3 separate regions of the Homo sapiens genome follow, and all the other regions are linked to region 1. Evidence: fine-mapped expression QTL. A gene starts in region 1. Each other region holds a variant in brackets. All regions are shown on one strand. Distances are between the middles of the regions.

What was found.
Region 2: its variant is fine-mapped to the expression of PKP4 in whole blood (TOPMed, PIP 0.98).
Region 3: its variant is fine-mapped to the expression of PKP4 in whole blood (INTERVAL, PIP above 0.99).

What each region holds. Positions count from the first base shown.
Region 1 is chr2:158,455,908-158,458,668 of GRCh38, forward strand. It overlaps PKP4 (plakophilin 4), which reads left to right and starts at 1,045. Exons shown (of 22, transcript NM_003628.6): 1 at 1,045-1,311. It overlaps CCDC148 (coiled-coil domain containing 148), which reads right to left and starts at 846. Exons shown (of 14, transcript NM_138803.4): 1 at 508-846. The coding sequence starts at 532. LOC124907900 reads right to left here and starts at 2,227. Exons shown (of 1, transcript XM_047446754.1): 1 at 1,224-2,227. The coding sequence starts at 1,547. The coding sequence ends at 1,224. RefSeq lists silencers at 750-1,044, 775-1,144, 1,365-1,414, 1,665-1,714, 1,735-1,794 and 1 more and an enhancer at 2,325-2,404.
Region 2 is chr2:158,109,320-158,112,080 of GRCh38, forward strand. All of the region lies in intron 2 of UPP2 (uridine phosphorylase 2), which reads left to right. Among named protein-coding and RNA genes, the nearest start is that of UPP2, 8.8 kb to the left of the region's middle. The variant A/G (reference allele first, on the strand shown) is at 1,143.
Region 3 is chr2:158,113,302-158,116,062 of GRCh38, forward strand. It overlaps UPP2 (uridine phosphorylase 2), which reads left to right. Exons shown (of 7, transcript NM_173355.4): 3 at 1,800-1,958. Among named protein-coding and RNA genes, the nearest start is that of UPP2, 13 kb to the left of the region's middle. RefSeq lists an enhancer at 68-1,267. The variant C/T (reference allele first, on the strand shown) is at 1,424.

The DNA.
Region 1 (2,761 bases):
CCATATCAAATTTAAAGAGATACTGGAAAATAGAAAACAAAATCCATCAACTGTAATCCATTTCCCTTACTCTTTTGTGAAATCATCACAAGGTGTGAAGGATTGTTTCTGTTTCCTCTATCTTTAACAAGCCTGTAACCTCTCAAGTGAAAGAACATGCACCTGTCAAGCTCATAGTGCGGGATGTACACACAGATGTGTTTAATAAATATCTGCCCACAGGGAGATTAGAGGTTTGCTTTGAGAATCAGGGAACAGGCTAGCTCATGTGTTGACGCTTTGGCATCTATCATACAATCCGCCACCTCGTTCCCTTACCAAAATATCCTCAAAGGAAATCCTCTTTGAGTCTTTCAGAAGAGTTATGAGTTTGAGGACCCAAAACGTTGAGGAAAGATCCACCCCAGGGAAGGGGGAGTGGCTGCAGAGAACAAACATAAGTAGGATTTAGGTGGCTCAGTGACGTCAGGAGGAAGCAGCGATGGAAGGGATGGGGTGCAAACTCACCTGGAGAAGCAGAAGCTGCACACATGTCAAAGGTCAAAGGGCATAGCCTCAGGGACTCCCCAAACGCAGGAAAAGTGAAACGCCCACTCCTGGGCTCTCGCCGTCAGGGGTACATCTAAGGGCTCAGCTGTTCCTACCTTTGACGCCAGGGACAAACCCTACCAGGCACAGTTGGGATTGGCAGTAAGGCAAGGAAAGCCTGCCCCAGATTTCAGAGCCAGCGCTGGGGAATCTCCCTGTCCTCTCCGCCACCCCCTCCCGCGCCCGAGACCTGAGACACCTTCTCTCTCACACCCACCCTCTCCAGGCCCTCTCGCGCTGAACAGCATCGGTCTCTATGGCGACCTGAAACCGCAGCTCCCATTGGCCTGTTCAATATGAGGGCCGGGCCAATGGGGAGGGCCAGCCCTCTCCTTCCCGCCAATGGGGTGGCGGGAGCTGGCCCGGGGACGGCGGCGTGCTGACGTTCCCGGGAGCCCGGGGCTGGCCGGGCGGGAGGGCTGGCAGCGGGGCGGGCGGCGGCGGCGGCCTCTGGGCAGTAGAGGGGGCTCCGGGGCTGAGTCCGCGTCGACGCCGGCCGCGGAGGCGGCACCATGGGCAAGGGGTAGAGGGGCAAGTTGGCCACCGCCGCCGCCGGGGGTGGTGGGAGAGCCGCTCCGGGGGCGGGGGCCGGTGGGGGAGGGAGGGGCGGGCAGCCGCGCCGCCGCGGCACTTTTTTAATTTTTTCGGGTGCCGCAGCGGCGACCCCTCGGCGCCGATGTCCCTGATCCCTGGAGCGACGACGGCCGCTGCCTAAGCTGGAAAGTAAGTGTGTGGGCTCGCGGGAGGGCGCGGAGACTCCTGCCCACGAGACCCTCGGCCCTCGCCCCGAACACGCGCCAGGGCCAGGACCTGCGCGCCGGGGGCCGGGGGCCTCCCTCCCGCTGCCGCGTCCCCAGCGCCTCGCGGCCGCCGCGGCTTTCCTGCCCCGCCTCGTGTTCCTGCCCGCACTCGCCTGCTGCTCCCCTCCCCCCGGCAGGCGCACAAGTTTCACCCTCCATTTGCTTTTCCCGGCGATTCCTCTCCCCGGTCTCCCGTACGCGCAGCGCACGACCTCTGCCCACGCTGGGCTGTTCGGATTCAGAGCTCCCAGCCCCGAACTTGAGCGCCGCGCTGAGCCCTGCTGGACGCCCTCGCGGCGGCTTCCCCGCTGCCTGCCGCCGCGCGCCCCAAGTCGCCCTCGACACCACTGGGCGCCCGCCCTCCTCAGCACTCGGGGCCGGCTGTCTGTCCTTCTAGCCCCAGATCCTGCACCTTGGTCCCCTCCCCGTCTTCCCACGCCCCTGCTGCCCGCGCGGTCTTGCGTTTGTCCCCGAAGTCCTGTACTCCTTGCCGGTCCTGCCCACCCCTCTGCCTAGTGCGCCCCTCTCTACCGGCCGCGGATCCTCACGCTCCACCCCTCCCGGCTCCCCAGCGCCGAGCCTCGCCGCTGCCCTCCTGCGCCGCCGCTTCCTCCTCTCCCTGCCAGGAGTTGAAGCGGAGCTGCGGCACCTCCCTGGCGGATCTGGTATCCCCGCCCGCTGCCGAGGCTGCCGGCCCTCTCCCCTGGACCGCTACCCGGAGAGCGAGCGGCGGGGCCGGGATTTGGCTGCGTGTTGGCTGAGTGCGACACACCGCGAGCGCGGGCAGTGGAGGTGCCGCGGCGGCCGTGGCCGCTCGGGGCGCAGCGGTAGTCAGGTGTGTGTGTACAGCGGGGGACGCGCGCTGCCGGCTCCTGGGCTGGCGACAGATTGTGCAGGAATGCGAGGAATGCACCAGGGGCAGAGTCCACACAGCCCGCCGCGGCTGCCCTAGCGCCTTCCCTCCCCAGCTCTCGCCGCGCAGCCAGAGGTCACCGGAGCATCTTCGGAGCTGGTGAGCCTCATTCCACTCCTCTCCTCCCATAGCTTCCCTCCATGCGGCAGAGGGGAAGCGCGGTAATTCTTTGGGGCTCCAGCTAGCCTTTCGTCTGGGTTTTTGCTGCATTGGTCTTCAGGACCGTGAATTTGGGGCCGATGACTGTGTAGCCAAGGTTATTGATCATTGCACAGGGCTGTTGGCAAGTTTGGTGTGCAAGGTTTGGATAGTGCCTGGTTTTCACTAGGGTTTTCTGAAAACCAGCAGAAACAGGGGGCCTGAAGGTTGTTAGAGTAATGAGCTTGCAGCCAACATATTTTAGCTCTATCAAAAAATGCCTGTTAGTGCTCACGGGCATGTACTGCGAGAGAGATCTTGA
Region 2 (2,761 bases), 350 kb before region 1:
TTTAAAAATTTTTGCTACTTGCTACTGCAAAATCTCAGTAGCTTAATACAATTTAAGTTTACTTCTCACTCACATTAGGTACAAGGTGGGAGTTCTTAGTTGATGGATGGTTTCCCTACATCTGGTGATTCGAGGACCCAGGCTCCTTCCATAATTGTTACTGTTTCCTTCAAGGCATAAATTGCTGTTTCCCAGTGTGTCAACACCTGTCCAGCAGATGACAGCGACAATATGTAGGGTCACCAATACATCCTCCTTGTAGGATGGGAGATTTCTATGGGCTAGGACTGGAAATGGTACCCATTACTTCTGCTCAAATTCTAGTCACTGGAACCCAGACAAATGACCTTGTCTAACTGGAAAGGAGGCTGAGATGTTAAGTTTAGCTGGGTGCCCAGAAAGAAGAGCAAACTGTTTAGGTGAACAGCTAATCAATCTCTGCCATACTCACTAGAAAGATTCAGACAATTAATACATACGGTGGAAGATCCTTAGAAGTTATCTATTCAAATTTAATGGACATTTATAAAATTCTCCACTCAAACAAAGCAGGATATACATTTCCGGGGAAGGCAGGAAATAGTTTGAACTGAGGAAAAATGAAAATACAACATATTATATCTACAGAATGTGGGTAGAGTGCTGAGAGGAAATTTATAGAATTAAAGGCTAATGTTGGAAAAGAAGAAATATTTTTTATTATACTTTAAGTTCTAGGGTACATGTGCACAACCTGCAGGTTTGTTACATATGTATACATGTGCCATGTTGGTGTGCTGCACCCATTAACTCGTCATTTACATTATGTATATCTCCTAATGCAATCCCTCCCCACTGCCCCCACCCCATGACAGGCCCGAGTGTGTGATGTTCCCCTTCCTGTGTCCAAGTGTTCTCATTGTTCAATTTCCACCTATGAGTGAGAACATGCGGTGTTTAGTTTTTTGTCCTTGTGATAGTTTGCTGAGAATGATGGTTTCCAGCTTCATCCCTGTCCCTTACAAAGGACATGAACTCATCCTTTTTATGGCTGCATAGTATTCCATGGTGTATTTGCTTAATCCAGTCTGTCATTGATGAACATTTGGGTTGGTTCCAGGTCTTTGCTATTGTGAGTAGTGCCGCAGTGAACATACATGTAC[A/G]TGTGTCTTTATAACAGCATGATTTATAATCCTTTGAGTATATAGCCAGTAATGGGATGGCTGGGTCAAATGATATTTCTAGTTCTAGATCCTTGAGGACTAGTTCTAGATCCTTGAGGACTCGCCACACTGTCTTCCACAATGGTTGAACTAGTTTACAGTCCCACCAACAGTGTAAAAGTGTTCCTATTTCTCCACATCCTCTCCAGCATCTGTTGTTTCCTGACTTTTTAATGATTGCCATTCTAACTGGTGTGAGATGGTATCTCATTGTGGTTTTGATTTGCATTTCTCTGATGGCCAGTGATGATGAGCATTTTTTCATGTGTTTTTTGGCTGCATAAATGTCTTCTTTTGAGAAGTGTCTGTTCATATCCTTCGCCCACTTGATGGGGTTGTTTTTTTCTTGTAAATTTGCTGGAGTTCTTTGCAGATTCTGGATATTAGCCCTTTGTCAGATAAGTAGATTGCAAAAATTTTCTCCCATTCTGAGGTTGCCTGTTCACTCTGATGGTAGTTTCTTTTGCTGTGCAGAAGCTCTTTAGTTTAATTAGATCGCATTTGTCAATTTTGGCTTTTGTTGCCATTGCTTTTAGTGTTTTAGACATGAAGTCCTTGCCCATGCCTATGTCCTAAATGGTATTGCCTAGGTTTTCTTCTAGGGTTTTTATGGTTTTAGGTCTAACATTTAAGTCTTGCCGATTCCCTTTCCATAAGTTCTATGCATTACTGAGAGAGGTGAAGTCTCAAACTATGCTTGTGAGTTTATTAATACTTTATTTCTGACAGTTTTTGCTTTATTTTTTAAGCTCTGTTTTTAGTTTTTATACACTTTGAATGTTATGTCTTCTTGGTAAACTGACTCTTATGGTTATGGAATATCCCTCTGTCTCTGGTAATTTTCTTTGCTCTGAAGCCTATTTTGATATTAATATAGTCATTCCAGCATTAGATTAAAGCTTGCATGGTCTATATTTTTCCATTCTTTTACTTTTAATCTGCCTGTATCATTATCATTATAGACAGCATATAATTGGATCATATGTTTGTTTATTCATTCTGAAAATCTCTGTGTCTTAAATGGGTGCTTAGACACTTTGCATTTAATGTAATTATTGATATGTTTGGATTTAGGTTTACCATTTTATATTTGATTTCTGTGTATTAAGCTCTGCTTTCCATTTCTTTATTCCTCTTTCCAGCTTTCTTTTGGGATAGTTGAACATTTTTTAAATATTCCATTTTTATTTATCTGTTATATTTTGACTATATCTCTTTGTTTTGTTTCAGTTTTGTTTCTCTGCTTATTTGTTTTAGTGGTTGCTCTAAGGATTACAGTAAACATATTTAATGTTTAAAAATCTACTTTTAATCAATGTTGTACGACTTGAAGTGGGACATATAGACCTTACAGGAATATACAGGAATCAAATAAACAAAAGAAGTGCAAACTTATACTCTGAAAACAACAAGCATTATTGAAAGAAATTTTGAAAGCTCTAAGTAAATGGGAAGACATCCTATGCTTATGGATTGCAAGATTTAATATTGTTAAGATAACTATACTACCAAAAATATTCTACAGATTCAATGCAGTCCCCATTAAAATTCCAGTTGCC
Region 3 (2,761 bases), 340 kb before region 1:
CTACCGTACTGTGTTAAAAAATTTCCTTGGACTTAGATCGTGAGCCAAGTCTTAACTATCCATACCAACAAAGAAGAAAATTCTAAGAATTATCAATAACTAGTTTAAAACTCACCTGAAACCATGGTCTTAACCTCTTTGCTACCAGTCTTTATGGCAGACTTCTATTGCAGTTCATTACTAGCTTAAGGCTTCATCAGAGAAACTCATAAGAAGGCAGAGAAAAGACAATATTAAGGGTAGAAGAGAAGCAGAGGGCGTGGATACAGGGTTAATTACACCCCTAATTGAGAAAGAGAATAGCTCAGGAATTATTGCTAAATGGAAACAAGATGCATCATGTACTCAGACCACCCAATAGTTAGAGTAAATCATTTGTGAATGGGGCCGCCTATTCTATAACCTCAGTTAGGTATTTCGTTAGACAGATATTCTTTATCCCTGTGATGGACCTTGTCAGCCCTCCCAGTCCTCTGTCCAATGCTGCCTACATCAGCCAGATACCACCAACTGCCTTTTCCTCACTAGAGGACTCAAACCAGCTTCCTGTGTACTAAATTCTGCAATACAGGAAAAGTAACAAGCTCAGAAGCAGGAATAGAAAATTGCTACATGATATAAAAAATAATGGTTACCATTTGCACATCACTGAGAACGTGTCTGGACTTGTGCAATGTCCTTTGCCATATGCAATCTCACGTTCTTCTTTCAAAACTCTCTGAGAGGTACTGTGTTTTTCCTATTTTGGAGATGTTCTGAGGCACATCGATTATTTGTGTGACACTGAGCAAGTTTCTTACTCACTGATGGGGTTGGAGTTCAAAGCCAGGTTTACCTAACCTCAAAGGGCAGACCCTCCACTATGTTGTCTTCTCTCTCTCTGCATTTTCCTCACCACTTACTTCAGAATCCGGGAGGACTTGACTCTTGCCACCTTGCTGTGGCCTGTGCTTCCTCCTGGGTGTGAGAGTCTGCTACTGCTCACCCTCTTGTTGCTGACCCGTAGTGCTTCTCTGCTCCTCTCCCTGGCGTCCACCTCTCCCACTCCTGGTACCTGGGGCTAGGGTACCCCTAAACAGACTGTTGTATGAGTAACTGCCAGACAATTGTATTACCATCTTCTATTAGACACCGTTGACTGCAACACCTATCCTAATTTCAGAGAAGGTAAAATGTGAATAAAACAAAAACAAAAATAAATCACTGGAATTGATGAAATGCCACAGGGAGATCCCACATTTACAATAATAAGGCTTGTTCCATGAGAATTTCTTCTGAATAAGAAATTTAAAAGTCTTGACATGATTCCTTTAAAATTTTAAGTTCACATACTCCATTTCACAATACAAATTTATGATGGGGGATGGGGAATCAGAAAACATACCTAAAACTGGTGGTTCTCCTTTTGCTCTTACATCACTCA[C/T]GTGCCGTGGCCTCAGAACTTACATCCTAAGCATATGTCATGGTAATGCTCAACAATAGGCTGTCTATGTCAATTTAAGATGCTGGTTGGTGTTCACTATAAACAAAAACACCAGGAAACACCTCCTTGAATAATATCAACATTTATTTTGATTTTGTGATTTTCTTTACAAATTTAGTGCAAAAAACTTTGCATCTGTTGCTTTATTTACAGGTTGATGATGCAAATTAGCTAATTCATGGAACATAAACCATGACATCTACACGTGTTCTTAAGTAAATTAACTAAAAAGTAAAATAAAAACATTAGAGTTGAAACTGACCCGTGGTTCTTATCCCAGTTACTATGGCAGGCCCTTGTTTATTTTTATTAACAGTTTGTCTGTGTCGGTGGGAGCCCCAACAGAATGAAAGCATTTGCACTGTTTATGCACAAGGAGCTCGGGTTTGAGGAAGCTGAAGAAGACATAAAAGACATCTGTGCTGGGACAGACAGATACTGTATGTACAAAACCGGGCCTGTGCTCGCCATCAGTGTAAGTATCCATGGTTGCATTTCAGCTAGTCATTGCAGGCTAGAGAAAAAAGTGGGAACTTTTACATGTAGGAGTTCTTTTTCCCTCCAGCTTCGCATTCTTACACAATCAAACAAGGTGTCCAGGTATGAGTTCATTATTGGAAAAAGCCCCCAGGGCAGAACACAGCATGCAGCATCATTTTTGTTTATTAGTTACCACTTAGGTATTCAAATTAGGGGGAAAATACTCAAAGCACCCCTCCTTTCTCTTTACTTTGTAACTGGTTAACACCCCTCACCCCCGCCACGGCAATTTTCCTTCTTCTATCCCTTACCCAGCTTTGGGAATGTTGAGCTTTTAGTACACAGAGGCTAATTTTCAGGACTGCTAAAGTGCTGCTGTTTAACACCATAATAAGCTCGCTGAAAAGCTGCTAATGCATTTCTACTGAGCTCTTGTAAATTACTCTCCTGCATTTAGAACATGTGAACAGTTATGGAAGCACACAGTGCCCTAAGACAAAATGAAAGGGGAATGATTTGCAGTTTTAGGGAAGATGCAGACCATTTCCCCCTTGGACTCAGCTGGGCACACACTGATGAGGGCGTATGTGCATAGGCATCCCATTTGCCTTCCCATGTTTGTCTCTCTGCACAGGGCTGTATTCTGAAGCAATAACTCTGAAGCCATCACATTTCTGGGCACTGCAACCCTCAAAAGAGGCACAGGCAGGCATGCCAGGGGACAGGGGAAGAGTCTCCTGCACAGGGTGGCAATTCTAAGGAACTAAGCTGTAAGTGGCTCCTACCATAGGGAATAGG